Linked DNA regions of Homo sapiens: regions 1, 2, 3, 4, 5 and 6 are each reported to be linked to region 7. Evidence: microRNA targets listed by miRTarBase, many of them from high-throughput screens and not tested one by one. Region 7 holds a microRNA gene; each other region holds the end of a gene's coding sequence.
What was found. Region 7 holds the annotated microRNA hsa-miR-4262 (GACAUUCAGACUACCUG, at 3,065-3,081, shown strand). A microRNA usually pairs through its seed, bases 2 to 8, with sites in the 3' UTR of a target mRNA and lowers its output. Matches are read on the target gene's strand: a 7mer-m8 pairs with bases 2 to 8, a 7mer-A1 pairs with bases 2 to 7 and ends in A, and an 8mer does both.

Region 1 (4,360 bases), not on the chromosome of region 7:
GAGAATTCATACTGGTGAGAAACCTTATGAATGTAAAGAATGTGGGAAAGCCTTTACTCAACACTCAAGGCTTATTCAGCATCAGAGAATGCATACTGGTGAGAAACCTTATGAATGTAAGCAGTGTGGGAAGGCCTTTAATAGTGCCTCAACACTTACTAACCATCACAGAATTCATGCTGGTGAGAAGCTCTATGAATGTGAAGAATGTAGAAAGGCCTTTATTCAGAGCTCAGAACTTATTCAACATCAGAGAATCCATACAGATGAAAAACCATATGAATGTAATGAATGTGGGAAGGCCTTTAATAAAGGCTCAAATCTTACTCGACATCAGAGAATTCACACTGGTGAGAAACCCTATGACTGTAAGGAATGTGGAAAGGCTTTTGGTAGTCGCTCTGACCTCATTCGCCATGAGGGAATTCATACTGGTTGAATGACAGTAAAGTAAGACCATTTTGTTAACCTTTATAATAATTTTTTTAAAACAGGTAAGGAGAACAAATTAGGATACATATTATCAAAGGTTCTCCTATGTATTCGTTTTTAAACGATACGATAACAAAGTACCAAGTACCAAAACCTTGGTGGCTTAAAACAAGAGAAATTTATTCTCTCATAGTTTAGAGCCTGGAAATCTAAACTCAAGGGTGCTGATCGTTTTGGTTCCTTCTGAGGACTCTGAGGATCTGTTCTATGCCTTTTTCCTAACCTCTGTTAACAGCTGGCAGTCCTTGGCATTCCATGGCTTTTACATACACCATTCCAATCTCTGCCTCCATCTTCACATTGCATTCTCGCTGTGTATCTCTGTGTATGTCTTTTATTTGGACACCAGTCAGGTTAGATTGGGGTTACCTGGTGACCTCATCTTAACTTGATTATATCTGCCAAGACCCTGTTTCCAAGTAAGGTCACATTTACCGGTACCAGGGGTTAGGACTTCAGCATATCTTTTTAGGGGATACAGTTCAACCCATAATACCCTGTTAGAATGATTTTGTCTAATATATTTGTAATTTCCTTTTATACATAAGTTGTTAGTCAAATTTATTTTATTTTATTTTATTTTGAGACAGAGTCTCGCTCTGTTGCCCAGGCTGGAGTGCAGTGGTGTGATCTCAGCTCACTGCAACCTCCAGCTCCTGAGTTCAAGCGATTCTTGTGCCTCAGCCTCTCAAGTAGTTGGGATTACAGGCATGCGCCACCATGCCCGGCTAATTTTTTTTTTTTTTTTTTTTGTATTTTTAGTAGCGACGGGGTTTCACCATGTTGGCCAGGCTGGTCTTGAACTCCTGACTTCAAGTGATCTGCCCGCCTCAGCCTCCCAAAGTGCTGGGATTACAGACGTGAGCCACCGTGATGGCCAAAACAGACTTTATACCAACAAAAATTAAAAAGGACAAAGAAGGTCATTTATAATGATAAAGGATAAATTCAACAAGAAGATAAAACAATCCTAAATATGTATGCACCCAACACTGCAACACCCAGATCCATAACACAGATACTACTAGACCTAAGAAAAGAGATAGACAGCAATACAACAATAGCAGGGGACTTCACCACTCCATTGACAGCACTAGACAGATCACTGGGACAGAAATCAACAAAGAAACTCTGGACTTAAATTGGACTCTACACCAAATGGACCCAACAGACATCTGAAGAACATTCTACCCAACAACCACAGAATATATACTCTTCTCTTCTGTGCATGGAACATTCTCAAAAATAGGTCATATACTGGACCACAAAGCAAGTATCAATAAATTTTAAAAAAACAAAATCATATCTAACATCTTCTCTGACCATAGTGGAATAAAACTAGATATCAATACCAAGAGGAACTCTCAAAACAGATACATGGAATTTAAACAGCTTGCTCCTGAATGATTTTTGGATCAATGATGAAACTAAGGTGGAAATTTAAAATTTTTTGAAATAAATGAAAATAGAGACAAAACACATGAAAACATCTGAGATACAGCAAAAGCAGTGCTAAGAGAGGATTTTATAGCATTAAATGCCTACACCAAAAAGATAGAAAAATCTCAAATGAATAGCCTAACGTCACATCTCAAGGAACTAGGAAAAAACAAAACAAACTCAACCCAAAGCTGGCAGAAGAAAAGCAATAACAAATATCAGAGCAGGCAAAAATGAGACTGAGAACAAAGGAATGCAAAAGATCAATAAAAGAAAAAGTTGGTTCTTTGCAAAGATAAAACTGACAGACCACTAGCTAGATTAACCAAGAAAAAAAGAAGATTCAAATAAATACAATCAGAAATGATAAGGTGATATTATAACTGATAACACAGACATATAAAATATCAGCAGAAACTATATGCACATATTAGAAAACCTAGAGGAAGTGGATAAATTCCTAGAAACACATAACCTTCCAAGATTGAACCAGGGAGAAATAGGAATCCTCAACAGACTACTGAGTATTGAAATTGAATCAGTAATAGAAAAAAATCTTGCAAAAACAAAAAGCCCAGGACCAGACAGATTCACAGCTGAATTCTACTAGACATGCAAGGAAGAACTAGTAACAGCACTATTGAAACTATTCCAAAAATTATAGGAGGGAATCCTCCCTAACTCATTCTACAAAGCCAGTATCATCCTGATACTGAAGCCAGGCAAGGATAAAACACACAAAAAAACTACAAGCCAATATCCCTGATGAAAATAGACACAAAAATCTTCAGCAAAATACTAGCAAACCAAATCAAACAGTACATAAAAAAGATAGTAACAGCACAGTCAAGTGGATTTTATTCCTGGGGTGTAAGGATGGCTCAACATATGCAACTCAATACATGATTCATCACATACACAGAATTAAAAATAAGCCAGGCACTCACACCTGTAATCCCAGCACTTTGCAAGGCCAAGGCGGGCAGATCACATGATGTCAAGAGTTTGAGACCAGTCTGGCTGACATGGCGAAACCCTGTCTCTACTAAAAATAGAAAAATTGGCTGGGCATGGTGGCAGGCACTGTAGTCCCAGCTACTTGGGAGGCTGAGGCAGGAGAATTACTTGAACCTGAGAAGCGGAGGTTGCAGTGAGCTGAGATAGTGCCATTGCACTCCAGCCTGGGCAACAGAGCAAATTGCTTGAATGTGGGAGGTGGAGGTTGCAGTGAGCCGAGATTATGCCATTGCACTCCAGCCGGGGGAGCAACAAAGCCAGACTCCATCTCAAAAAAAAACCAAAAAAAATCCTATTTAGTACAAGGTACATTATTTAGGTAATGAGTCCATTAAAAGCCAACACTTTCCCCACTACACTATATGTGTATGTAACACAACTGCCCTTGTAACTTCCTAAACCTATAATTAAGAAACAATAAAAGGCAAATTAAGAATGCTTTTTTAAAAGGTGGGGGCATTATGCTAATAAGTTACTGTGGATTTCAGAGTGCAGAGTAGAAAGATCACAAGAATTTAGTGTGGTAGGTGGGAACAGAAAATGGGTGTATAAATTTTATTGACGTGGGAGTACTGGATATTGTAGAGACAGATATCATCAGGGCAAGGAGATTAAAGATTTTTGCATTGACGGTTTGACACTATATTGTGGTAATAACACTGTATGTGTTGGGAGATAGAACAGGAAACATCTTCCCTGGAATATGTATACTATTAAATGTTTTATCAAACTTTTGATCAAACAAGACAGCACAATTTATAATTTCATTTCTATTTCTATGTTATGAGAAACTGATCATTTATTCAAATGTTTAACAGGCATGTTCATGTTACTATAAACTCTTCTGTTTCACCATCACGTTGTTGGTCATCTTTACTGATTACAAATTTCTTTACATATTTAAGAAATATATATATTTCTTTATATATTAAGGTTAGTGTTTGTCATATGTTGTTTCAGTAACTTTTCCTAATCTTTTGGCCTCTTTGGTATTTTTTAATAAGCAGAAATCTTTTTCACATGTAGTAAAATTTACAGTTTTTCCTGTACACATAACTATTATTTTTTCTAGATTAATATTTCTGCAGATTTGGAGTCATCCAAGAATTTAAATTGTACCTCAGGCAAAATCATGAGAATGACTTTAGGATCACTGTTACTGGCTCTAGAGTTCAGGAGACCCAATAAGTAGAGTGTGCCATTAGATGGAGTAAAATGTTGAAGAGGACCAAAATGATTCTGAGTCTCGAATCTTGACTTTTAGCCTAGCATGTCAGGAAACAGTGGTCTGGGCTCTACGTGTGTTCCTTTTGTAAAACATGGATCTAATATCATAGATGTAAATGACTCCATGTAATAACATTACTCAAATCATGATAAATCCGGCTCTGTGGATACACAGGAATGACTA
Region 2 (4,297 bases), not on the chromosome of region 7:
AGCCTGAAAGAGCTCGGAGGACTGTCGGAAGGGAAAAAAGTTTTGGTGACAGCAGCAGCTGGGGGAACGGGCCAGTTTGCCATGCAGCTTTCAAAGAAGGCAAAGTGCCATGTAATTGGAACCTGCTCTTCTGATGAAAAGTCTGCTTTTCTGAAATCTCTTGGCTGTGATCGTCCTATCAACTATAAAACTGAACCCGTAGGTACCGTCCTTAAGCAGGAGTACCCTGAAGGTGTCGATGTGGTCTATGAATCTGTTGGGGGAGCCATGTTTGACTTGGCTGTAGACGCCCTGGCTACGAAAGGGCGCTTGATAGTAATAGGGTTTATCTCTGGCTACCAAACTCCTACTGGCCTTTCGCCTGTGAAAGCAGGAACATTGCCAGCCAAACTGCTCAAGAAATCTGCCAGCGTACAGGGCTTCTTCCTGAACCATTACCTTTCTAAGTATCAAGCAGCCATGAGCCACTTGCTCGAGATGTGTGTGAGCGGAGACCTGGTTTGTGAGGTGGACCTTGGAGATCTGTCTCCAGAGGGCAGGTTTACTGGCCTGGAGTCCATATTCCGTGCTGTCAATTATATGTACATGGGAAAAAACACTGGAAAAATTGTAGTTGAATTACCTCACTCTGTCAACAGTAAGCTGTAAAAACAGAACAATGACATAAATCAAGGGAGAAAGAAAATGGGCACTTTATGTCTCAGAATTACTCAAATCAATTTATTTTTAGTTGGTAATGGATATAATATTTCTTAAAACAAAAGTAAGGTGTTAATGAATAGGTCTCTCCTTCTCCTCCTCCTCCTCCTCTTCCCTTGGGGGAAAAAAAAAAATGTGCTAATAAAACTTCCCTCCATGGCTAAGAGGGAAAACGCTTACATTCAATTCTTTAGTCATGGATGGTCTCGTTCCAGATGTTATTGTTCCAGGGAACTAAATTCATTCCTGATGCCAGATCTGATCGAGTCAGTATGTCTTCAGCTTGATCAGATTTTAAAATCAGTTTTGAAAGTGGTTCCCGACTTCTTTGCTTTGGGAGAATTTGGTCTTATGCTCATAAGCAGTTCATGAGTGACAAGTGTAGCAAAAGCCAGCCATATATTTTCAGAATCTATATCCTCAGGAAATGGTCCTTTTTTTTTCTATAAATCACCAACCAACTATCTAAATGGACATTTGGGGGAATTCCCTCCCAAATTTGATTTTGTTATTAGAAAAATGATTCCGTGAACACAGATGTGTTTTGAAGAAGTAGCACGTAATGGCTTTTATCTACCATCAACCTGATAAGGCACATGTGAAATGGAAATGTTCTCTTTCCTCTGAAGCAGCAAATTAATGTTGAAAACTTACATAGACAGAAAGTAGGTTTTGGAAAGGGAAACCACAGAGATTAGGGGGACTTAAAATTAATATAGGCACAGGAAAGAGAAAAGTGTGCGCTCCATTCTCAGTGGGGGTTCACCACAAAACACGGGCCCCAGGAGGGAAGCGCTGTCTAGGCACACGGCAAGGCCTTAGTAACAGCATGCTACACTGCTCGAGGTACGGTATGTCCCATCGCCCTGTGCACCGTAGAGACCTCAGTCATCTCAAGGAAGAATACATTTGCTTCTCCTTAGAGGCGTTCGAACTAGAAGCTATGCGTTACCTCTGATTCTGGAAACAGAATAGCAGCCACTCATTCTGCATTCCCATTTTTCTCTCCACGTGTTCTGGTGGAATGAGATGCTCCTTGGCACTATAGCCTGATGTCCCACATTGACCCACTGACCACACAGGAAAAGCAGCGAAACCTGCACCCTCTCTTCTGAGTCACGCCTGTGGCTCATCGGCTTCCCTCTTAACCTTTAGTGCCCTGAAGACTGCTGCCGCTGTCACCGTTGCGCTGAAACCCCATGGGCCCGTTCTGATTGAAGGTGAAGCCCACCAGATTATTTTTCAAAGTCTTAGGTTTCGGTGTATCTAACCTGCTCAGTAAATATGGACGCAATTAAAGATGCTCTAGGAAATTTGGGGACTGTATTTAATTTTTCTTTCCTTCCATCTGAGGAGCAAGGAAATCCTACTGCTGAATAGCTGTTAGTATCTATTTTACAAGATTTACTCATTTTCAGGTACCTAATGTAGCTGCTAGCATGCATGCACAACAATACAATTTATATGGTAAATGGAACCAAATAATGGCTTCACTGAATGTTATGGCTGCACTGAAGGGAAATGTCACGGTAAATAGCTGCCAAATTATGGATCATGCCGAAGTGTCACAACTGCACTAAAGACAAATAGCACTAGAGGCTATTGCCACTGTGACGCTTTTGAGTTATGAAGAAGGGTAGCGGCCTGATGCGAGGCTCTTTGTGTCCTCATTATAGCAAAGGGTTACTGGTGCAGGGGACTAGGAAAAACCCGTCCAGTGTGGTGCTTAGTTATTCATCCATCCCTTTCAGACCTAACAGCCACAGCCACACGGAAAGAGACTTTGCCTCACTTTTACATTCACAAACAAACAAAGGAGGGGGGAGCAGGTTTTATGAATGTAACTGTGCACAGGAAATGACTGGTAATGGAAAAAATGTTGTAATAAAATAATCTAATCAAAGAATATTATTAAATTTAACATAGTCTATGTCCAAAAGGCTTAGTTGCTTCTTATGCAGATAGATGTGTGAAATCTAAGCAGTAATGTACTTTCTCCCTTTGTAAAGACTTGGGGAGTAAGGACATTACCAACTAAATTGCTTCTTCGAAACTGAAGTGAGTCCCGGTTTGTTTCATTTTAATGGGAGGGTAATAAAGATGAAAGACCAACATTTTAACTGATGGATCCCTTAAGCTACAGAATAGAAATTTATTGTGTTTTGAGGGAATATACTAAATGCAGCTATGTAAAAATAAAATTCAAACGCCCAGGATTAAAATAAAATATAATCTGAAAACCTCATGTTCTCTCTTTCCCCAAACTAAGAAAGTGCACTGCATGCTGTTTTCACTTATTCTTAGAAAACAAGCATGAAAGATTCCGCCCATTCAGATAATGCCAAAAATATGTTTAAACTTTTTTTTATTCTTTTGAAAAATGATTTGTAAATTGAGGGTCATAGTTCAGCATCAGTTTCATCTTCTGGGATTATTGTTCAAGACCAGCCTCTAATGGGAGGTGAAACGGTACGATGGTCTCAACACCTTTCTTCTGAACTGTAATACATATCACAAAAAGTACATCCATAATTCAGGGCAATTGTCAGTCTTTTTAGAGAAGGGGCCAGGGTGGAACAATCCCAGTGAGTAAATTATTTCTCAGCGTGGACTTCTCTGCATGTCGGGCTTAAGGTCACCAGCCGGGCAGGGTGGAAGGAGCTTGCCTCTTTGAGAAACCAAGGAGTCCCAGTGATCTGTTACCATTTGGTTATGACTTCTAAAGAGCCAAATGCTATTCCTTCAAGCCTGTTTTGCAGGCAGAAAATACCAGCAGTGTCATTTAGGGGTTCCTTTGATGATGACTACTGCTGTTAACTGACCTCAGCATTAAAAAAAAAAAAATTCAGGGAATAGTTTGCAAAGAAATGAAGGAAGTTTTGCATGATATATTCTATAACTTGTCATTATATGATTTCATCTGGATGAAGTTCCTCAGGAGTAGGATAGAGCCTCTGTAAATGGTCATTAGTATTACATTCTGTGTTTATCTAATGAAAGTGCAGTGACAAGTAGCTGCTTCTTATTAAAATGAAAATCCTGCATTATGTACTTGAGGAACATTCCAGCTAATGAGGATGTAATGTCCTCAGTACAACGCAGACCTTCTTTTTGTGTTCACCACCACAAGATGCTGGAAGCTTGACAAATGATATCATTTAAGACACATGCCTGCCTTAGGGACCTGGTTTTTGGCTTCCTGTTTCTGGCTTTTATTTGGGTAACGTTTATAATGGCCACCCGACTTGTACCTGGGTAATGTTTTAACCCCTTCCCCAGAGTTCTCAATTAGCATGAATTTACTACAGTCAGAGTTTCCTTTAAATTGGGGTGGGGGTGCTAAGCACTGAAAATATCTTTCTTGATTACTTTACCATGTGGACATATGGGATAAATACTGTATTTCAGATTTACATAAAAGTAGATTAGTAATGCACAGCTTTCAGAATAAAAACTGATAAAAAAGACCAAGCACTATCAACTTTGGACAGTAATTTCCTAGGTGTTAAACAAGTTTTCTGAATACAATCTGGATGCAAAACGGCCTGATTTGATGAATTCATAATTTTCTTCTGTATACTTTCATTTTATTAAATAT
Region 3 (4,360 bases), not on the chromosome of region 7:
TTCTTAGGAAATTAAACACAACTTTTGGCACTTTACATATAAGACAACATTTTGTGGAGAATAAAGGAGTCTATAACACCGCTTTTATATAACTGAGCAATCAAAATGTATGAATATAAAATTTAAAAAATTGAATGAGTCCACTCTGTGAAAATAAGGCTTTAAAATCAGTTGGAATTAATGTAACCTGAACTTTCATTTTAAATACATGGCATAAAATTTAATTTTAAAATACTCAATTATTATAATGTGCCCTCTAAGGATGGAAGAGAAATAGTATCTTTTCTAAAGTGTTCATTATAATAATTATGAAAGGATTTTAAAAATACAGAACACTGGAAAAAATGTATGAGAAAAGAAATAAAAGTCACCAAATGCTATCATCTAAAGATAGAATATTAATATTTAACAAACTGTATTCTACCATTTTTCTAATACCATCATGTTCAAAGCAGCCTTAATTTAGTTTCTAAAATAGTAACAGAATGTTTGATACCTGGGGCTACTTTTTAACTGTGTGTTTCTAACATTATACATTTTTCCTTATATTTGAAGTGTTTAATAGTGCTCACATTGCTTTCTAGCACCTCTGGATGAGCCCTGTGAGAAAGCTCTCCAACACAGGGGAGGGAATGAGGCTCTGACAAGCACAGCAAGCACACACGGCCTGGACACGCTGCCGAGGAGCCTCTGCTTTTAACCCTCCAGGCTTTCCAGGTACTTTTTCCTGCAATATACAATGGAGCCAATGTGAAACTCAACAGCAAGTCAAAGAATCAAGGCTTGCAAATGAAAATATGATATTCCTTTGGGGGATATGCCATATATATATATATATACACACATATATATGTGTATATATATGTGTGTATATATATACACACATATATATGTATGTATACACACACACACACACACACAAATACATTCATAAATATCACCAAGATGATTACCAAAAAAGAAACACAAGACAAAATTTTTAAATAAATTTTTTATTACAATGACAGGAAGACTCCGGATACAAACACATTTGCTAATATAATCACTCCACTGGTTACCTAGGCCTAGACGTACAAAAGGACACCCATATCTCATCAGGAGAAAGACAATTTTGAGTTTCTGGGTGTAGTACCAAGTGGTTATGATCACCACGTACGTGGTCTATCCAGTTAACTGTGTGGCAATTTGCTATTTCAAGTCCTCTCATAACAGAAATTACTGAAATATGTGGAACACCAGTCAATATAAAGAATTCATTTTTAAACAGACTAGTGAATTTGTGTCATAAACACACTTGCGTATGGATATTAGGAGAGCATTGCTTGAATATCTCTAAAACTATTTTTAGGAATTAAAAGCTTTCATAGTTAATGGTATGATATTGGCCTTCAGAATTCATATTGATAAAAGCAAACCTTAGTCATTTAACAGGAATGTTTAAATTTTAGAGATTCTAACATGCGATGCCGAAAAATCCTAACATTTCCACTTAGTAATGTCAGGGTTGTGCCAGTTCTAATTTCCCATAGCTAGTAACATCAGAAAATATTTATCAGAGATTCAATATTGGTTTCATTAGAACTGATAAATGCTAAGTATGGCAACTATTAAAACCTATTGTTATTCTTGTTTCTAAAAGGGAATAATAGGATGTAGCTATAAAAATAATGAAGCTTATTTTTCATAAACATATCATAACCTGAGCGTCCAAATAGATTTTAACAATTAAAAATGCCTCATTTGAGAGGACATACACTTATTTGATATTGCCATCCTTCAAAATGCTTTTGGGAGTCCTTATAATGTCCTTGACAACTGGTATACAACAAGCAAGAAAATATAATCCATCGCCTAACTTGCTACCTTCCTTTATTTTGAAACTTGTTTGAAGTGGCTTTTGACTGTTTCTAAAGGAGGGGGAATATATTTATCAATCAGTTTTCAAAGGATAATAATTTTCCATGATTATTCATATTAATGCTATGTTAGTTTCTAAACTTCAACTCAAATGTAATTTCAAGCAGTAAAATCATATTTTAGGAAACAAAGAATGCACACTTTAATCTACTTTAAGGGAGTCACACTCATTTGACATCTTTATCCTGGTATGTTTATTCAGATCATCATTAATTATAAGTTCCTTAAGGGTGCAGCCCACGTCATTTCAATTACACAGTTCTCTTTTCTAATTTCCCCATCTCCTGTCTACTGCATCCCAGCATAAGACCTGAGGCTGGTCCCATGCTCAAAAATGTTTCTTTAATTGAAGTGACTTGAACTTCTCTGTTAGATACATACATAGATATAGCTATATATCATATATTTAATGCTTTATATCCCTTTTTCAATTATATAGTTCTCTTTTCTAATTTCCCCCTCTCCTGTCCACTGCATCCCACCATAGGACCTGAGGCTGCTCCTATGCTCAGAGATATGTTTCTTCAATTGAAGTGACTTGGACTTCCCTATTAGATACATAGATAGATAGATATAGCTATATATCACATATTTAATACTTTATATCCTTTTTTCTATGGATTAGGCAATATTTATATACATAAGATATGTAGATTAATAATTTTGATGATTTTCTGTAAATCGAGGAACTGTACAATATAAATCATAGTAAATAGATCACCAAAGGCTTTAATAGAAGAGCACTTTATGTCTATTCCTATTTATGCTGTTTGATATATTTCAGTTTTAGAATTCCTGCTAGTCAAGCTTCTTTCTGGGAAAAGACCTACAAGAGTTTATACTTAATAAGGATCAATTGTGATATGCTGTAAGTTGATTCCCCTTCCCTAGTTCACATCTATATGGCCAACAAGATCAACCTTGAGCTAAAGACATTAGCCTCAATGTCATTAGAAGTTCAAATTAACTCAACAGTACAAGGTTGGTCACTGTTATACTTTGTATCTCTTATTTGGGCTAATTGATAACTAAATGGAACTGGGTATTTGTTGACAACATTTCATGCTTAGGGATGAGATTTACTGCAGTAATTGATCCGAATTAAAGCATATCCACTAAAACAAAATATCCTAACCAGACAAATCAAAGTTGGTAAAATTTTAGATTAAATACCTTGAAGCAGTATTAAATTTGTAAGTAAGTATTGTGTACTACATTGGTTTTAACATTGTTTATTATATAATTCAGGGACTAAAAGGATAGGAGAAAATTTAAAGCAGTATTAAATTTGTGTCTGTGGACTGGCATTCCCTGTTGGAAATATTAACAGAAAAAGTAAGAAACAGGAATAGAGAATGATCTAGGCAATATTTTTCTAAAATTAGATGAATATGAATATTTTCAATCAGTATGTATTGCATTGTAATCAGCATGTATTAAAATCACTTTAATACATGTTGGCTAAAGTATTAGCAAATCCACTACAGCCTAATAACTTGACCAATAACAACAATGCTTTTATACAGTAATAAACAAATGGCATCTTTTGGATTTCTTAATTTGTCCAAATTCAGCTCCTACTGATGAGATTCCATTTAAGACACCTTGCAGGGGCAGACCTTTGCTATCCATGAATGATGCCTTGGCTCACCTAGGAAAAAAGCAGATATCTTGGGTTATATGGTGAAATCTAAAAAGAGAAAAAAGAGAAAGACCAAGAGGAGGGGAGGGAGAGAGGAAATGAAGAATAGATACAGAAAGGAAGAAGGGAGAGAATGAGGAAAAAAAGAAAGAAAGGAAGAAAGGTATTGCTTATAATTTCTACATGTCTTTTCCATCCTAAAATAAGACAAGTTAATATAATAAAAATATACTTGTCTTATAAAGTAGGTAAATACACTTTAATTGCACACATTATTAATAGCTTGGGGATTTTTTTTTAACTGCCAAGGAAGATGGAAGTTTTCTATAAGAAAAATTTAGTTTGAAATTAGTAAATTTCCATAAATTTCAAACAGCTTAATTGTTCTTAGAAAAATCCACAACTGCAGTTTTAGGGTCAAAATTTATTAGTTGAAATACTGTTTGAGTTAGAGAATCAAACAAGTATTTATTTCTCAGATTACTTGGATGATTGCCTTTGTAGGCTAAAAAAAGCCACTCATTTAAAATCAAATTGACTACCAAACTAATTGGAACATTGTTCCTTAATAACTATTTTAAAACACATTTATATTAATGACATGTCTATGAATAGTAACTTTCACTCCTACTGGCAAAAACTATGGTTTAGTTAAACCAGTACTGTATACTAACTGTGTGTGTGTGTGTATTAATGTATAATTTTGCATTCTTTAAAAAATATGTTGATGCTTGAATTTTGCTTTTGGGTAAATTTTAAGAATGTCATATTGTTAAAAACAACTCGAAGAAAGTGCTTATA
Region 4 (4,360 bases), not on the chromosome of region 7:
TATTGTGTGTTTTACCATATGTTCAGAATTAAATTCCTTCCTCATTTAATCCTTACTTATTATTATTCCAAAATTACAGATGCAGAAACTCAAGCTCAGAGAGGCTAATTTGCCTTCATTAGTAAGTAGATTGACACTGAGGCAGGCAGGCTCTAGATCCCGTGCTCTTCACCTCTCAACTGCAGTACAGTTCACATCTCCATGGGAGGTTAGCAGAGAAAAGCAAATATCGAAGCTGTGTTCTTTGTTAACAGTTCTTTCAGAGGTATTATTTGATCTTTCTTAAATAAATGCCAAGACTGCCTTCTGACAGTAGGCTTATTCTCACATCGTAGTGTTTGGATTTGAAAAATGTTTTACATTTTCAACCTAGCAACTGTGTTTTTGTTAAGAAGTAATTGTTGCCATATCACAGGTGAAGAAACAAGCTCAGAGGACTTTCTCTAGGGCAAACCTGCGTTTGTAGATAGGAATAAGAAATGAAGCTCTCAGGTAGTGAATAAGAATGTAGTTTGTGAGACAGTGTATTTAGAATGATTCTTTAGTTTACATTGCTGCCCTAAATATATTGTGCTGTTCAGTATTAATTATGCCAAAGACCTTAATATTTCATCCTTCAACTCATGTATGTGTATTACTCCATTTCCAGGGTTTGAATGCCGGTGTGGAAATGTTTACTGTGGTGTACACCGTTACTCAGATGTACACAATTGCTCTTACAATTACAAAGCCGATGCTGCTGAGAAAATCAGAAAAGAAAATCCAGTAGTTGTTGGTGAAAAGATCCAAAAGATTTGAACTCCTGCTGGAATACAAAATTCTTGAGCATCTGCAAACTAAAAATTGACTTGAGGTTTTTTTTTTCCTAGTCATTGGGAATGTAGAGCAGTGTATCTTGCATGTCATCGGAAGAATAGATTTTTGTTTTGGTTTTGTTTTGAAAATGACTCTGAACATTTATTTCCATTGCAATTTCTGTGGCTGAGGAGACTTAAACTTTACAAGTATTATCCTTTTAAGATCATTTTAATTTTAGTTGAGTGCAGAGGGCTTTTATAACAAACGTGCAGAAATTTTGGAGGGCTGTGATTTTTCCAGTATTAAACATGCATGCATTAATCTTGCAGTTTATTTTCTCATTGTGTATGTATATATCGCTTTTCTCTGCAGCACGATTTCTCTTTTGATAATGCCCTTTAGGGCACAACTAGTTATCAGTAACTGAATGTATCTTAATCATTATGGCTGCTTCTGTTTTTTCATTAACAAAGGTTATTCATATGTTAGCATATAGTTTCTTTGCACCCACTATTTATGTCTGAATCATTTGTCACAAGAGAGTGTGTGCTGATGAGATTGTAAGTTTGTGTGTTTAAACTTTTTTTTGAGCGAGGGAAGAAAAAGCTGTATGCATTTCATTGCTGTCTACAGGTTTCTTTCAGATTATGTTCATGGGTTTGTGTGTATACAATATGAAGAATGATCTGAAGTAATTGTGCTGTATTTATGTTTATTCACCAGTCTTTGATTAAATAAAAAGGAAAACCAGAATGCTCCCTTGTATTACTTTTTCTCTTATTCTTTCTGGTAGTTAATTTTATTTTTTGGTCTTTTAGTTTTCTACTTTCCTAATTTTGTAAGAGAACTACCATTATTTGTCTTGCATCTATTTGTGACTAAGCTTATGATCATGAATTGTAATTTTGTATTCCTCTGAGTTGAAGACCTGAGCATATCTTCAGAGGCAAGCACTCCTCTCTGTTACTTAAATGTATTTTTTAGTCCTTGTCTGATTCCCTTTTCTACACTGTCACACTCAATTAACATCTAATAGAAGCTTTTTCTTGTAGGATTGGAGAAATTTTAAGAGTATAATTCAAACTGCAGGGCAATTGTAGAATTGCGGAGTAGAAAGACCCTTGAAAGATCATTTGTCCTGTGGTTTTCAAATGTGTCTGGTAGCCAAACGTTTTTAAACATGAAATGTCATATAAAACAGATGAAGGCAATAATTTTACAATATAAATTTCTCAGTTTAAAATTATTTACTTACTTGCATGTTCTATTTAAATAAAGGATGGTTTAATTATCAAAATCTGTAAATTGATCACATTAACAGATTATAAAGAGAATAAACCGTTATGACTGTCTTAATAGATTCAGGTAGAGTAATAGAATTTAACAGCCATTCGTGATAAGAAAAATTAAACTTGACAAATTAAGACTAGAAAGGAATTTCCTTAAGCTGATAGTTCTATGTGAAATCAACAGCCAAACAAACAAAACCAAGCATCAGCTAAAAAGAGGAAACTTACTTCCTTTTAAAGTCAGAAACAAAGATGACTGCCCACTATTACTGCTTACTATTCAAAATTGTGTTGGAGATTATAATCAGTGGAGCAAGACAAGACAGAAAAATGATAAGAAAAGAGGTAGCACTCATTATTTGCACATTGTTTTTATAGAAAAATCATTACTAGAAATAATAGGGTTTAGTTAGGTAGCTAGATACAACATTCGTTTTTAGAAGACAGTTGCATTTCTTTACACCAGTTACCTAGAAAACCAGGAAACACCATTTGACAATAATACCAGAATCTTGGTTACCTAGGAAATTGACAATATATGTGGATGGCCTCCTCAAGAAAGAATTCTAAAACATTAAGGGATAATAGGAATTCAGTAAATAGATGTTAGTGGATAGGAAGACAGTATCAAAAAATGTCATCTGTCCCTCAGTAGGCATAGATTCAAGGTAATCCCAATCAAAATTCCACTTGATTTTTTTTCATGGAGCTTGTTTAGTTGATTGTAAAAGTAAAAGTTAAAAAGAGCAAAAGGCTAGAACATTTCAGAAGAGAGCAGGGAGACAGGGACTTGTCCTAAATGTCAGGACTCACTGTGAAGCCTTGTTAGTTAAAATAGCATGTTATTAGCTGATAGGGACAGACAGATACCTGAATTGAATAGATTGCCCAGAGAACTCTGCACGGACTGAACTTTGGTGTAAGAGAGAGGTGGCACATTGCATTCAGGAAAGGAGACTTCGATAATTAGAGCTAGAAGAATTGGTTTTCTGTATGAAAAAGGAAAAAACCCGTATGTTATGCCATAGGAAAAAAGGACTTAAAACAAAATTTGAAAACTCTCAGAAGAAAGATGGCTGCCTGTTAGGTCTTAGGATAGAGAGACTTCTTGGCCAGGCACAGTGGCTAACGTCGGTAATCCCATCACTTGGAGGCCGAGGCGGGCAGATCACAAGACCTGGCCAACATGGTGAAACCTCGTCTCTACTAAGAAATACAAAAATTAGCCAGGCGCAGTGGCACATGCCTGTAATCCCTACTACTAGGGAGGCTGAGGCAGGAAAATCACTTGAATCCGGAGGCAGAGGTTGCAGTGAGCTAAGATCGCACCACTGCACTCCAGCCTGGGTGACAGAGCAAGACTCCATCTCAAAAAATAAAAATAAAAAAAATAAGACACAAAGCATACTATAAATGTATTATTAATGAATTTATCTATTAAAAGGATATTTTATTCTCAAACACATTAAAGTATCTTCAAAGAATGTGAAAAGACAAAGGTGGGAGAAGTTCCACTGCAAATGAAGACTACCCATTCAAGCAACAAAAAATTAATCTGTCAGTATATAGTGTTGCCAAATTTCTGTGTGTTCTTGCATTGCTGGTGTTAGTGCAGTGGTTCAATCCTTGAGAAAGTTTGATACTGTCTTTTAAAGTGGAACTTTTACATACCCAATAGTCCAGAAATTGCACTCCCAAGTGCATACCTAGGAAAAACTTACACATAGATAAATGGGGGACCGCAGCCAGGAGCGGTGGCTCAAGCCTGTAATCCCAGCACTTTGGGAGGCCAAGGTGGATGGATCATGAGGTCAGGAGTTCGAGACCAGCATGGCCAAAACGGTGAAACCCCATTTCTACTAAAAATACAAAAATTAGCCAGGCACGGTGGCAGGTGCCTGTAATCCCAGCTACTGGGGAGGCTGAGGCAGGAGAATCTCGTGAACCCAAGAGGTGGAGATTGCAGTGAGCCAAGATCGCACCACTGCACTCTAGCCTGGGCAATAGAGTGAGATTCCATCTCAGAAAAAAAAAAAAGACAAATGGGGGACCACTACACGAAGTTTTATAGTGCTGTTTACAGAAGCAAAAGCCCAGAAACAAGTCTTCAAATCCCCAGTGAAGAAGAGTGGATGAATATAATGTGATATATTCATACACTGGAATAATACACTGTAACCAAAACTGCTGATCCATAGTGACACAACAAAATAGAAGCATATTATGCAAAAAAGTCTTCCAGTATAGTAAGCTTTAGAAATACAGGAAGAAGT
Region 5 (4,360 bases), not on the chromosome of region 7:
CTTCTTATCCCACTGGCAGGGTAGAAGTGAAGCCTCTCCGAGTGCAAGGGCATAGGCCTGAGAAGCCCTTCTCGTCTCACCTCCTCTCCAGGGTAAGAGAAGCTGAGAGTACAGCTGGCTCCTTCCTCCAGTCTCAGGGAAGAAACGGCACACTTGGAGACACAAATTTTTTTAATGTAAAATAACATTGAGAGTTCACCTAAACATCTGTCTTAGAAATTCAGGTTGAGGGCTATGAAGGGAAGAGATGCTGTTAGAACAGAGGGAAGTGGGTGACCTCTCCAAAGACAGACGTGCTCCGACGGAGAGCTGGGGTGTTCCCGCGGTAGCCAAACCTTCCACTGAACCCACTGACCAGTTTGACATCAGCATTGTAGTGGCCATCTGCTGGAGAGGATGCCCTTGGGGGCAAGGAGAGAGAGGCCTGAGCCTGCTTCCAGTCCACCTCTTGGCTTCCCCATTCCCCTGGGTGTGGTATGGGATGCCAACCAGGTGTAGTCACTGCATTCCCCATGCCCACAGCCAAACACGCAATCCTCAAATGTCCTGAGCCTCTGGGCTGAAAAGCCAAGGGCTGGTGAGGTTGAGGGACAGAAGGCTTCCTAGAAATAAAACCCTGCACCAGGAATAATTGCGGGAAGACTGTGAATGGTTTGTGCTGGGACAGGAGGGGCCAGAAATTCTGGGCTTGGCAGAGCTTGCCTTTCTCCCACGAGAAATGAGAAAAATCTCACCCTTGTCTCTGACCCATGTGGAAAAAATGGATGAGATCAAGATCAATTGGACCAAATGGTACAAAGGATCATGTGAGTAGAGGAGTGGCCCAGGATGGTGGAGTTGGGCTGGGAGGAGGGTTTACCCTGTTAGAAAAGTATCTCTCAACTCTTTCCCATTGTTGTTAACCTGGGCCTGGAAAATGAGCAGGACACAGCAGTGAGGGGAACAGGGGCTTCAGAGTTGGGAAGAGCGGAATCTTAATCCCAGCTCAGCCCTTCTTGCCAAACCACTTTAACTCAACAAACTTGTTTCCCAAACTGTGCCGTGGGGTTAGTGTGAGGGTGAGAAGTGTCTTACAAATGGCTCGTGTCTGTAATGCCAGCACTTTGGGAGGCTGAGGCCAGAGGATCACTTGAGCCTAGGAGTTCAAGACCAGCCTGGGAAACATAGGGAGACGCCATCTCTACAAAAAATAAAAAATTAACTGAGTGTGGTGGTGCACACCTGTGGGCCCAACTGCTCAGAAGACTGAGGTGGGAGGATTGCTCAAGCCCAAGGAGGTCAAGACTGCAGTGAGTAGTAATTGTGCTACTGCAACTCATGCACTCCAGCTTGGGCGACAGAGTGAGACCATGTCTCAAAAAAAAAAAAAGGTGGGGGGGGCCTGACATACAGTAGGTGCTTATTAGCTAGTATCAGGGAGTACTGTGCCACCATCTGCTTGTGTATGTGAAGAAAAGCTGGAAAGATGCAGTCCCTGGGCCTCTTCCCCTCAACCAGGCTTTGCTATGGCCCAGGAACCATCATGAGGCTGGAAATGGAGGCAGCACTTGCCTGTCTCTGCCCAACTTCTCCTGTTGAGGTATCTCTGTCCTTTCCTGAAGATGTGGAGGATGCATTCTACTATCCAGCCATCCCTTCCTGTGCCACCATGATCCTGAATGTGGGAAAGAGAATACAGAAGACTGTCAGCCACAATGCTGAGGGGGCACAGTGCAAACTGCCCTGGGGTTTGCTGGTGGGAGAAGGAAGAGGTCAGAGCCTTAGATAACTGGGGCGGACGGATTAAATATATTTAAGAATCGGGCCAGGTGCGGTGGCTCAGGCCTATAATCCCAGCACTTTGGGAGGCTGAGGCGGGCAGATCACCTGAGGTCAGGAGTTTGAGGCCAGCCTGACCAACATGTAGAAACCCCCATCTCTACTAAAAATACAAAATTAGCCAGGCGTGGTGGCACGCGCCTATAATCCAACCTACTCGGGAGGCTGAGGCAGGAGAATCACTAGAACCCAGGAGGTGGAGGGTGCGGTGAGAGCGCCATTGCACTCCAGCCTGGGCAACAAGTATAAAACACCATCTCAAAAAAAAAAAAAAAATTTGGTTCTTTATAGAATATGCTGTATTAGTCAGGGTACTGGCAGGAAACATTCAAGTGGGTAACTGCGAGTCTACCTAGTGAGGCATTCTGGGCCAGCAACAGTGAGGTGTGATGACCAGCTGTAGGTCTGAAGGGACAAATGAAGAGTTGCTGGAACCCGGCTCTCTCTGAGCGCTTTCCAATAGAAGTGGTGGGTTTTGGTTACAGCCACCCACAGCCCAACCAGAAGGGAGCCGGGGAACCACTCCCTCTCCTCTTGCCCTCTGTGTTCTACTGCTGCTTCCCACTGGCTGAACCTACCTAGCTGCTGGGAGCCAGGGAACCCTGACCTAGTCCAGAGGTGAGTCTTTTGGGCATGCACAGAGCAGGGTGGAGATGGACAGATGATGAGGGCAGAGTGGGTCTGGAGGGGCCCAGGGAAGCTCTCCAGGAAGGCTATGAAAGCTGGTCCCAGCAGCCCAAGCTCATGATCTCCTAAGTCATTCACAGAAGTGCATGTCACACCATGATTCTTCTCTTGGTTTTATTGTTTGGTAGAAAAACAGGCTCTTTAACACTGAATAAACATCTCACGAACTGTCGCTCCTAGATTACAAAAAGTCAAAACCAATTTCCTTTGACGCCGGGCCCTTGAATCTGACATTCAAGTCACCGTAATAGAAACCAGAGCTGCTGAACCTTACATTCTGGAAGGTGCTTGAACAAAGGCATGTTAAGGACCGTTTAAAACTTCTAGCATGTAAGAAGATCCATCTTTCCTTCCAACGCCTTTGGATAATAACAGCAGAATCCCGGAGATCTGCTGCTGAGTTTGAGAAGGCCAAGTTTAAGGATTCCAAACTCCAGCCTTCAATATTTCTGCAGAAACTTAGAGAAGTAACCTCCCCGTCCTCTCCGCTGGCTTCCCCAAGTACAGATGCAGGATGCAGGTCTTTCTTCCTGCTACCCAGGCACCGAGGACTCAAACCATCTCACCGTCTCATCACTGGGCTTCTTCAATGGGCTCTTGGAGGAAGAAGCTTTTCGTTTTTGCCAATCTTCAGTCCTTAGAAAAGTCCTTTTTGTTAAGAAAAGGCAGGGAGGGTTAACTAAGTTCTAAGAATTCAATAAGAAAAGGAAAGAGGTACCTTTTATGAAAAGGACTTCCAAGCTCTCTCAGCCAGCAATTTAACTCAAATAACTTTCCTGAGCATCTCCACACGGAACATTCAGCACTTCTCTCCTAGCAGCCAGAGGATGGGATCTGTGTACACTGAGTGTCACTTAAAACACCCTCATTAGATGCAGTAAAAAGTTACGCTTTACTCCCGTAAGTCAAATCCACATGGCTCTGGGCTGTGCCCTGCAGAATTAGCTGTAGGAGTAACAGTAAAGGTCCTGCCCGACAGCCATGAGCAGCCCCGGCGCGCCCCGGGAGCCCCCCAGCCGCGACGAGAAGGCCACACTGGGAATGTCGGCCTTGGAGGCAGGGTACGGGGAGGGTATGGTTCTCAGTAGGCGGGCATCGTGGAGGCTCCAGATTCTCGTGTAGCAGTCCTGGCCCACTAGGAAAGAGGAGAGACACATGGCAGGCTAGTGAGAGAATGCAAAGGAAAACTTACCTACATGTGGACATGGCTTCCCAAGATTCCTCAGGGCTGTGATTTCATGTGAGCCAAAACACAAACTCATTAACGGACAGTATTTCTACGGATAACCCAAGTCGCCCTGTTGTGCTAGAACAATGACAAGATGCCCTGGTTGGCTGTGTGATGCCATGAATGGCTCGGAGACATCCTGGCTAATGTCTGGGTATTCTGCTGCTCTTGATGTCACGGAACGTTCAAGTGCGAGTGTGGCCCACCTGGTCTAGGTGACATGCAACTGATTTCCCCCATTTTTTAGGGACAGGGTCTTGCTCTGTCGCCCGGGCTGGAGTGCAGTGGTGTGATCAGGGCTCACTGCAGCCTTGAACTCCTGGGCCCAAGCCATCCTTCTGCCTCAGCCTCCTGAGTTAACTGGGACTACAAGTGTGTGCCGCCATGCCTAATTTTTTTTTTTTTTGAGATAGGGTCTTGCTGTGTTGCCCCAGCTGGTCTTAAACTCCTGGCCTCAAGCTCCCTAAGTGCTGGAATTATAGCTACCACACCTGGCCTGATCTTTTCATGTTATAGTAAAAGATCTGTCAAAGTCATTACATCCTGGGGATGGGCTAGGTTGACAACTCTCCCCACAGCTCTTTCTGGTTTAATGCTTCAGTTCCTAGGACCGGTTTAAGTCTTCAG
Region 6 (4,321 bases), not on the chromosome of region 7:
TACCCAAGTTGAAAATCAGTCCCTTGGGAGAGGGCAGGTCACATGGAAATCAGCACAGCAGCCCCTGCCTGTCCACGCCGCGCTGGGGGACACTCCTGCACCCGGCACAGCTCCTCTCAGTTGCCGAAACATAAAGAGACGCTAACAGGTGGTCCTTAGGGGCCTGGCAGGTACTGTGGAGTCAACAGGCCCTGCCAGGGAGCCCGCCCGGGCTGTGGTAGACAGTTTGTCTGCCCGTCCTGTTCGCTGGAGCCAGCACTATTTTGTGTTCATTTGACCTGACAGTTGTAAGTCATCTTCAACCACGATAATGTTGAAGTCGTGATTCCATCACTTCTGTGTGCTCACATCTTGTGTTCTGTTGCAGGGAAGTGGGAATGTCCTTGGCATCATTGTGACGTGTGTGGCAAACCTTCGACTTCATTTTGCCACCTCTGCCCCAATTCGTTCTGTAAGGAGCACCAGGACGGGACAGCCTTCAGCTGCACCCCGGACGGGCGGTCCTACTGCTGTGAGCATGACTTAGGGGCGGCATCGGTCAGAAGCACCAAGACTGAGAAGCCCCCCCCAGAGCCAGGGAAGCCGAAGGGGAAGAGGCGGCGGCGGAGGGGCTGGCGGAGAGTCACAGAGGGCAAATAGCGCCAGGCGGCCGCTTGGCCGGATCCAGGGGCGGTGCAGGGCGGCCGGCCCTGCCTGCGGGAGAGGGCGAGCATGAACTGGCCCGGAGGACCCAGCTCGAGCCGCCAGGACACAGACGTACAGGCCTCCTCGGGAGGGAGCGCCTCCCCACCACTGAGCCATCCTCAGCAGCGTCCGCTGCGTCTGCACTGATGACCGTCTGAGCCCAGCTCAGCGTTCCTGGACAAACAGCCTCACTCCTCAGCGTTACCGCCACACTTGAATTTCTCCGAATGTCAAGGTTCCCTCCCACTCTATTTTTTTAGGTTAAAGTTAATTGGCATATGGAATGTTTTAATCTCCTCTGAAATGTGTAGCGTAGGCTTTTCCCAAGGGTCGCTAGAAACTCGTCTTCGCGTTGCCCCCTTTCTGGCTCTCAGCGCCGTCGCCACTCGGGAGAGGCTGGGTGAGGCCCGTGTGAGGACTGACCCTGGATTCCTCGAAACTGCCATTGTGATCATTACTCTGCTCTTTGGAAATGGCTGTATCATTTTTTTGTACTAATGTGAATTGTTCCTCAGAAACGCTTCTTTTCCATCCTAGTGAGAAGCTGGCCCTGCAGGTGGTGGCAGCAATGGTGTTGTAAGATTTCCTCCCGTAGTTTTTTCTCCTCATGGATTTGAATGAAATGCCAATAACACGTCCACTTTCAACGTGTAGTTTACGCGGAGCACTTTCGAGGCCTGGCCGGGTTGGGCCTACTTCTCACCTGGGCCTATCTTCTGAACTCGCTAGGTTCTTATCAACATTTGGGGGATAACTTTGTATATTTTTTTCATTTGGCTTTTCTTTACCAGTTTCTGATTTTTATTCTCAATATATTTTTGCTAAACCTATTTCACAAATCACCACCGACTGAAGTGTGTGTTTACTGATGCGGCCCTGAGCTCCATGGCGAAAGGAGTGACTTTGCAGGGCGTGAGACCGCAGTCTGCTTAGAGCACAGGAAGTGACAACTTAGGGAGCCCCGTAGGGCGCTGCAGGCCCCGGGGACCCCAGCACGTGGGTCTAAAGAGAGACGGAGTCTAGCTCTCCTGCCACCCAGAGTGGCTTCCATCTCAGCACTCTGTGGGTCTGGTGATGGAAGATGCAGTCTCTGCTGATCACATGTGCCCTCTGCCAGGGCACCTACTGAGAGGTGCGGTCCTGGGGGTGGAGGCCTGCCTGGCAGGTGTGCGTGCCTCGTACGTGTGTTATGGGCACTGGTCTAGGCCAGGTATGACACCCACTCTCCTGTGAGATTTCACTTTAGTTTTTAAAAGGTCCAGTTCTACAGAGTGAGACCTATCTATCTGAGTACTACATATGTTTTAAGACTTGGTTCTTTTTTTGAGGGATCCTTGACCCTGGGAAGTCTGGAGCACCCTGAGAAGGGGGCACCATGTGTGCCTTTGCCCACGTGTCCTGAGGGGCTGCTTGTCTGGGAGGGAGGGAGAGAACATTCAGCAGCAGGTGCTTTTTTATGGCCTTTTCTTAAAATAACCTAAGGGGGACACATCCATCTTGCAGAGAAGTTTACAGAACTCCCCTTGAAAACTGCTGCTGAGGCTCCTGTTAAATTTTCTGTGGCATCTTTTATGCCTTGGTAAAAACTGCAGTGTCTTTGGACCTGAGAGTGGCTACTCCGTGGTTTTGTGACCTGTAAGCGTGGGGTTCAGGGGTGTGTGGCCCTGCAGGGTCCCACGCCTCCCTGAGCACTGACTGGAAGTTTCACTGGCTGGTGGCTGTCCCTTCTCCCATCAGGGTCCCCAGCAAAGTTAACTACACAGAGGACCCAGGGGAAACGAGCTGTGTAGCCACTGACTTGCTCGCGCGGCCGTGGCCTCTGAGGGGCACTCGCCGGTTAAGACAGGGTGGGAGTAGTGCTTTCCAGTTCAGACTCTAACTTCTCCCAAAGTGTCCTAAGAAAATACTGGATCGGCTCATAGATTTATGCTCCTTATGATGCCCTAACTTGGAAGGTTGTTCTAGGGACAGGCCGGGCAGTGTCCCCACACACACCTTAGAGTCGAAGGCCCCAGGGCCCCGCTGTCACTTGCCCAAAAGATCCCTTCCGGCAGGTAAGGGACTACCAATGCTTACGTCAAAACAGCAGAATCGGCTTTGCAGTGCACTTTGGGGAGCAGATATTAACTTATTTTTGTGTTGGACAGTAGTGAAATCTTGTGATTTTTAATCGCTTTGATAATACTTCCAAATTTTATGATTTTTCTGAAGGAAATAATGCAAACATTTTAAATATGTTTCTCCCCCTTTCCAAAAACTGTTAAACTAATGAGCAAGTAACACTAACTTTGAATGTCTCTACAATACCCGTTGATAACTCAGTGGAGCCAGGCTTTGGGGTAGCGGCCCTGAGCTTGCAGGGTTTCTCGCCACTGGGGCTGACCACGCCCCCAGCTGTGACCGTGGGTGTGGCTGGCTCTCGGCCCTGCCCAGCTTTGTTCTGAGGACGTGGTGACTTCCTGAACATCAGCTTCAATCCTCCATCATTAATGTGAAGCAAAACACAAAAACCGCCCCAATCCCTCAGGATTCCTTGGCATCCGAAACCAGCATCTGCACCTAAACCCATACCCACCCGTGTGCGCCCACAGGGGGATGTGTCCGAATGGGCAGCTTAAAATGTGGTCACCTGTGGGGGAAACTCTTCAGGCACCTGAAGTGAGAACCCAGCTGTCCGTCCTCAGGCCGGCCTTTCTTCCGGCGACACCCGTCCATGGCTGGCTGGGTCCCCTTCGCAGTGTTTGTCTGTCTTGACATCTAAACCCCGGCGTGTGCAGTGCCCATCTTCCAGGACTACCTTATTTTCCAGAATTAAACCTGTTTTATAATTCAAGTTAATGCAAATGACTGTCAGTTGCCAAATATCTTGATCCTATGAGTGTAGTTGATGACTGTTTGTTAGTCAGTAGAGTAAAATGCTGTGTCCACGGGGTGTCACAGCCTCACCATACCCTGTTGAGGTGTGAAATGCCCCGTCAGAAATTAAATACAAACTTAAATGTGCCTATTGGTGTCTAAACTTCATACAATGTAAGGTCAGATTCCTTTTAGGAATACTGGGTGCTGTCACCAGGTTTGATAGTTAGACTTAAAAACTTGAAATTCACTTTTTGGGGGGAGGGATATACTGAAATAGAGAGTTGAGACTTGCCAGTTGGGGGAAAATAGCATTTAAAATGGAAAGCTGTGTTTGGAAAATTGTGTATGAGTATTTTTGTATTAAAAACATTTTAAAGGCTTTTTTCTTAACTTATTTTATATGGGATTGTTTGATTTTTTTTCCAGTTACTTTGAATTGCAAAGCATCGGGTGTGGCACTGATGCCTCCGATGGGTGGGGCTCCCTGTCCTGACTGTGTCATTTTGCCTTTGACCTGACCCGCTGGGGAGAGGCAGTGCCACCTTGGGAAGTATAACAACAAATACTGGAAATAGCAGGCATAACTGACTGACTTTGGAAAAATGCTTTCTTCTTCTTTCAGAAATAATTTGCTTCCCAAATTCCCATTAAGGGTGAAATGGTCTAGAGAGAAGGAAGCACTGCTGTCCCCCAGCCCTGCAGTCGGCTGAGCCGGGTGGTCCCCAGGCCCACAGCCAAGTAAGTCAAGGGAGTACCCCGAGGGCTGATCCTACCTGTT
Region 7 (4,360 bases):
CTTTCAAATCCACAATGACAATCAGAGTTTATGATGTAAACACTCCAAGTTGACCCCACTTGGAGGGTGTAGATAGAGACTCAGATTCAATTGGTTTGGGTTGGGACTTGGGCATTAGTAATTGTTTAAATTGGCCCCCTCCCCCAGTTAATTTTAGCCTACAACCCAGATTAAGAATCCCTGCTGATGAGGTGCAGAAGGTGCTCTGTTCTTAATCTCTCTCACCAGCATCAGCTGCAGCCGTCATTCTGATGGGACACACAAGCCGCTGCATCCCGTGCAGAACAAGTGAGGCTGGAGATCCTGCAAATCAAGGCTCAGCTCCCCACCCTGAAAATCTCCTTTTCATGCAAAACTCACAAGGGGTATTCTCAAAGATTTCCAGCCAAAATGTGCCATAAATATCAATTACTCCTCCTCCATTCCTCAATTGCAATGCATATAAACATAACAGAATTAACAGCCATTGATGAACGTATCCACTGCAGCATGATTCAGTTAATTGGTATATCCTTCACCTCATATACTTACCCTTTTTTTGTGATGAGAACATTTAAAATCTACTCTCAGCTGGGCATGGTGGCTCACGCCTGTAATCCCAGCACTCTAGGAGGCCAAGGCAGGCGGATCACCTGAAGTTGGGAGTTCCAGACCAGCCTGGTGAACATAGTGAAACCCTGTCTCTACAAAAACAAATACAAAAATTAGCCACACGTGGTGGCACACATCTGTAATCCCAGCTACTCAGTGGGCTGAGGCATGAGAATTGCTTGAACCTGGTAGGCAGAGGTTGCCGTGAACTGAGATGACGCCACTGCGCTCCAGCCTGGGTGACAGAGTAAGACTGCATCTCGATAAATAAATAAATAAATAAAATCTACTCCCTTAGCAGTTTTAAAGAATATAATACATTATCACGGTCCTCAAAGTATATAAATATCAAAGCATCACGTTTTACACCATAAATATATTCATTTTTCCTTTATTAAAAATATTTAAAAATTGTTTAAAGAATACACAGGCACATAGGAAGCAAATGTCAGTTTCACTCATCTGGACAAGTTGTCAACAACCCCCATTCACTCTGGAAAAATACAAGAAGAGCTGGTATGGAGATCACACCTGGGTCTGAGGCCAAATGAGGCACTGCACCTACCTGTCTATAGGTATGAAGACAGCCAGGTACCCACTCAGCCAGGTGTGGGGAGGGGAGAGATCAGAAGCCTGCTGGGTGCACATGGGCACTTAGAGCTGTGCTTTGGGGACCCCAGAGAGGCCGAGGCATGCCCTCCAGCCTCCCAGCACAGGGGAGACCTCAGCATGTGTCAGGGGTCACCTCACCACGCAGACTGGCCCTCCCTGTTCCTGTGGCTTCATGTGTCCTTGAAAGGGCAGCCAAGGCTGGCTGACGGGGCAGGGAATGGACAAGGAGCAGCCTGGAAGGGCTGGCACCATTCTGAAACTCTGCAGAGTGGACCTTCACCAGCGGCTTCTCCAGCAGGAGCTGCCTCTCCCCTGTCACCTTGTTTGGAACAATGAGGCATGTCCAGACTGAACACGTTGCCTCACTGGCCACTCGCTGGCTGTTCCTCAGGGTCAACCACTCAACCTGCCTCAGGTGGACCTCTGGACTTCCATGCAGGCCTCAGCCGGCTCTGTGTTTCTGGGCTGCTGGACTCTGTAATGGGCCCTCCATGCACTCATGTGTCTGTGCTAGAGACTTGGAAGTGATCCCAGCTTCCTCCCCGGCTCTCCTCGGCTCCCCTCCTTCATGCCTGTGTCACTGCCTCAGTTTGGACCTTCAGTTTCTCCATTCTGAGCCACCTGGAGTCTTCAGGTAAGGTTCCTTGCTCCTGCCCAGCCCCTCCCATCTGTCACCACCACCACCTGGGTGATCCCTCTAAAGCATCACCCAACTCTGCCATTCCCCACTCCTCCTCCCTTTAGTGGCCACCAAGTGCATGGGAAATGAGGCCAGGCCACCTGGCTCATGATGTGGCCCTGCTCACCCCTTAACAGCATCCCTGCTGCACTTCAGAGCCAGTCCTCCAGCCACACTGCTGCCCGTCCATTGCCCTGTTTTCCCTGTTCCCTGGGTGGAAACGTCTTCCAGACTTTGAGGAAGGAGCAAGAGACAAATCATAACCAAATTCCTCCCTGACTGTTGGGCCAAGTAAGATGGAGACTAAACTGCTTGGCTCTGTCCCTTGGAGTTCATTGAAGACATTGAGTGGGTACCGTGGAGTGGGAGCCAAAGGTCAGCTTGGAGTGGGTGCAAGAGGGAAGGAAAGGGAGGAAGGGGAAAAGCAAGGACAGTCAGCTTCTGGTGTCCATGGTGGATTGGTTTCGGGACCCTTGTGGATCTCAAAATTCATGGATGTCAAGCCCCTGATATAAAATGGCATAGTATCTTTATGCAACCTATGCACATCTTCTGTGTACTTTAAATAATCCCTAGATTGCTTATAATGCCTAATACAATGTAAATGCCATGTTAATAGTTGCTATACTCTATGGGTTAGGAAATCATGATAAGAAAAAAAGTCTGGATGTGTTCAGTAAAGACAGATTTTTTCCCAAATATCTTTGACCCATGCTTGGTTGAATCCACAGATATCAAACCCATGGATTGGAAGGGCAGACTATATAGTCATCTCTTCCAAGAATTTGGCCATAAAGGGAAGCAGAGAAATGAGTGGTCATGGAGAGGAATATGAGTTGGGGCTGGTTTTACGCTGATGGGACACATCACAGCAGATCTGTATGATGATGGGAATGATTCTGTAGACAGTGGGAATTTGAGATATAGGCATTGGAGTGGCTAATGACAGGTGCATTGTCCTGGAGTTGGGGAAAAGAGGCAGGACAAGGTGCTAGACTAAAAGTGGGCATTGGAGGCACTTGCACAGTGAGCAGTAGGGCTCCTCGGCTGCTTCCCTGGTCCAACTGTGGCATGTGACAGGCCGTTCACCACAAGCTCCACCTCCCGCCATGAGGCCAGGCAGCCTCTCTGCAGATACCAAACCACCCCAGAGAGGAAAGCTGCAGGTGCTGATGTTGGGGGGACATTCAGACTACCTGCAGCAGAGCCCATGGCTGACAGGACCTGCACACCCCACAAAGAGACACCCACACCCCCCATGTTCACAACACAGACACCCACACACACACCCATATACACCCCACAGACACAGACCCACACTCATATACCCACACCTACCCACAGATAGACGCAGACACCTGCCATCCTGCACAGGCACCTCCCAACCCCACAACGTTTTAGTGCATCTCTCTTACATATAAACAGATATAAAGTATTACCAGACACTTGAGGGAAGTCGCCCATAGAAACCAAAGCAAACGAGCAAAATTTGAGGAGTTACTATTGAGATAATTCAGGAAACAGAAGAAAATTTCACAGACACTATAACTAATGTCTTCAGAAGGGTAGACTGAAGGGTAGACTCACAAAATTAGAGATGGATACCACAAAAAAAAATTAAGAACAATCCATTTGGGATCTTGGAGACAGGGCCTCCAATTAAGGAGAAAAGCAGAGAAGACTCCAGATTGATGGCTTGTTGGGGGTCAGAGCAGCCCTGTTAGACTGGAATGTGCGGGGAGAGCACTTTAGTGGGAGGGTTTCCAGGAGGAAAAAAGGAGACATGTATTTAACAATGTGGAAAATATTACAGAGATTTTTTTCCCATAACATTTTTTGGGGGCTGAGGAAGGAGTTAGTAATAATTTGAAAAAATAATGAGCCATAAAAAATGGAGCATATTAACTCCAGGGAAGGCCAAAAGTTATAGAAATAAAAAAAAACATGATATTTTTATACTATAAGGCTTAGGGATGGGAAAAAGCACATATGAAAGACAAAAACTTCATCTGGCATCGTAAGTCAATAAGGAATGCCTAAATTTCATTAATCGAAATATTGTAGTATGTTCATTTTACTTAAAAATATCAAAGTAAATTCCAGAATAAACAGGGGCAAGGGTTGAAAATGAGAATCAGGAGGGGTGTGGGGGAGGGGGGCAAGTAGGACCAGCCATGTGGATTTTGTGTGTCTTCTGGTAAAAATCTTCAACTTTTAAAACTATGTGAATATGTTATTTTGGTTTCAAAAAAAACAGTAGACTGAAAACTATAAAAAGCCAACAAAATAAAGGGAGAAAGAAAGAAAGGAAGGGCAAAAAGAGAGGCGGGGGGAAAGAGGTGGAAAAGGGGAAAGAGAAATTGACCAGCAGGGACAACAGACACAGCTCTTGCCTGCTCTCTTCTCCACTCTATAATGTTTTCTCACTAGTCAGATTCTTCAAGGACAATCCCTTTTATTCCATCTGGTGGCCAATTT

Region 1: the mRNA of ZNF829 is a reported target of hsa-miR-4262. Seed matches in the 3' UTR shown: 7mer-m8 at 3,136-3,142.
Region 2: miRTarBase lists PTGR3 as a target of hsa-miR-4262. Seed matches in the 3' UTR shown: 7mer-m8 at 2,194-2,200 and 8mer at 2,535-2,542.
Region 3: the mRNA of WDR72 is a reported target of hsa-miR-4262. Seed matches in the 3' UTR shown: 8mer at 924-931.
Region 4: the mRNA of ZFAND6 is a reported target of hsa-miR-4262. Seed matches in the 3' UTR shown: 7mer-A1 at 877-883 and 8mer at 1,223-1,230.
Region 5: miRTarBase lists DCAF4 as a target of hsa-miR-4262. Seed matches in the 3' UTR shown: 7mer-m8 at 3,301-3,307, 7mer-A1 at 2,777-2,783 and 7mer-m8 at 2,736-2,742.
Region 6: the mRNA of NSD2 is a reported target of hsa-miR-4262. Seed matches in the 3' UTR shown: 7mer-m8 at 2,974-2,980.

The regions. Positions count from the first base shown.
Region 1 is chr19:36,887,571-36,891,930 of GRCh38, reverse strand. It overlaps ZNF829 (zinc finger protein 829), which reads left to right. Exons shown (of 6, transcript NM_001037232.4): 6 at 1-3,807. The coding sequence ends at 439. It also overlaps a transcript of ZNF345 not described here. Among named protein-coding and RNA genes, the nearest start is that of ZNF829, 27 kb to the left of the region's middle. RefSeq lists an enhancer at 1-504.
Region 2 is chr18:75,197,767-75,202,063 of GRCh38, reverse strand. It overlaps PTGR3 (prostaglandin reductase 3), which reads left to right. Exons shown (of 2, transcript NM_175907.6): 2 at 1-4,297. The coding sequence ends at 648. Among named protein-coding and RNA genes, the nearest start is that of PTGR3, 9.2 kb to the left of the region's middle.
Region 3 is chr15:53,514,187-53,518,546 of GRCh38, forward strand. WDR72 (WD repeat domain 72) reads right to left here. Exons shown (of 20, transcript NM_182758.4): 20 at 1-3,568. The coding sequence ends at 3,513. It overlaps LOC105370826 (a long non-coding RNA gene), which reads left to right. Exons shown (of 7, transcript XR_007064645.1): 5 at 585-717. Among named protein-coding and RNA genes, the nearest start is that of WDR72, 240 kb to the right of the region's middle.
Region 4 is chr15:80,136,831-80,141,190 of GRCh38, forward strand. It overlaps ZFAND6 (zinc finger AN1-type containing 6), which reads left to right. Exons shown (of 7, transcript NM_019006.4): 7 at 650-1,563. The coding sequence ends at 798. Among named protein-coding and RNA genes, the nearest start is that of FAH, 14 kb to the right of the region's middle.
Region 5 is chr14:72,957,892-72,962,251 of GRCh38, reverse strand. It overlaps DCAF4 (DDB1 and CUL4 associated factor 4), which reads right to left. Exons shown (of 14, transcript NM_015604.4): 14 at 2,549-3,640. The coding sequence ends at 3,447. It also overlaps the pseudogene LOC100420966. Among named protein-coding and RNA genes, the nearest start is that of TRC-GCA8-1, 2.9 kb to the left of the region's middle.
Region 6 is chr4:1,978,271-1,982,591 of GRCh38, forward strand. NSD2 (nuclear receptor binding SET domain protein 2) reads left to right here. Exons shown (of 22, transcript NM_001042424.3): 22 at 368-3,922. The coding sequence ends at 639. Among named protein-coding and RNA genes, the nearest start is that of MIR943, 6.0 kb to the right of the region's middle.
Region 7 is chr2:11,835,664-11,840,023 of GRCh38, reverse strand. It overlaps MIR4262 (microRNA 4262), which reads left to right and starts at 3,038; the gene lies at 3,038-3,091. The region is part of intron 3 of LOC105373430 (a long non-coding RNA gene); the gene reads right to left.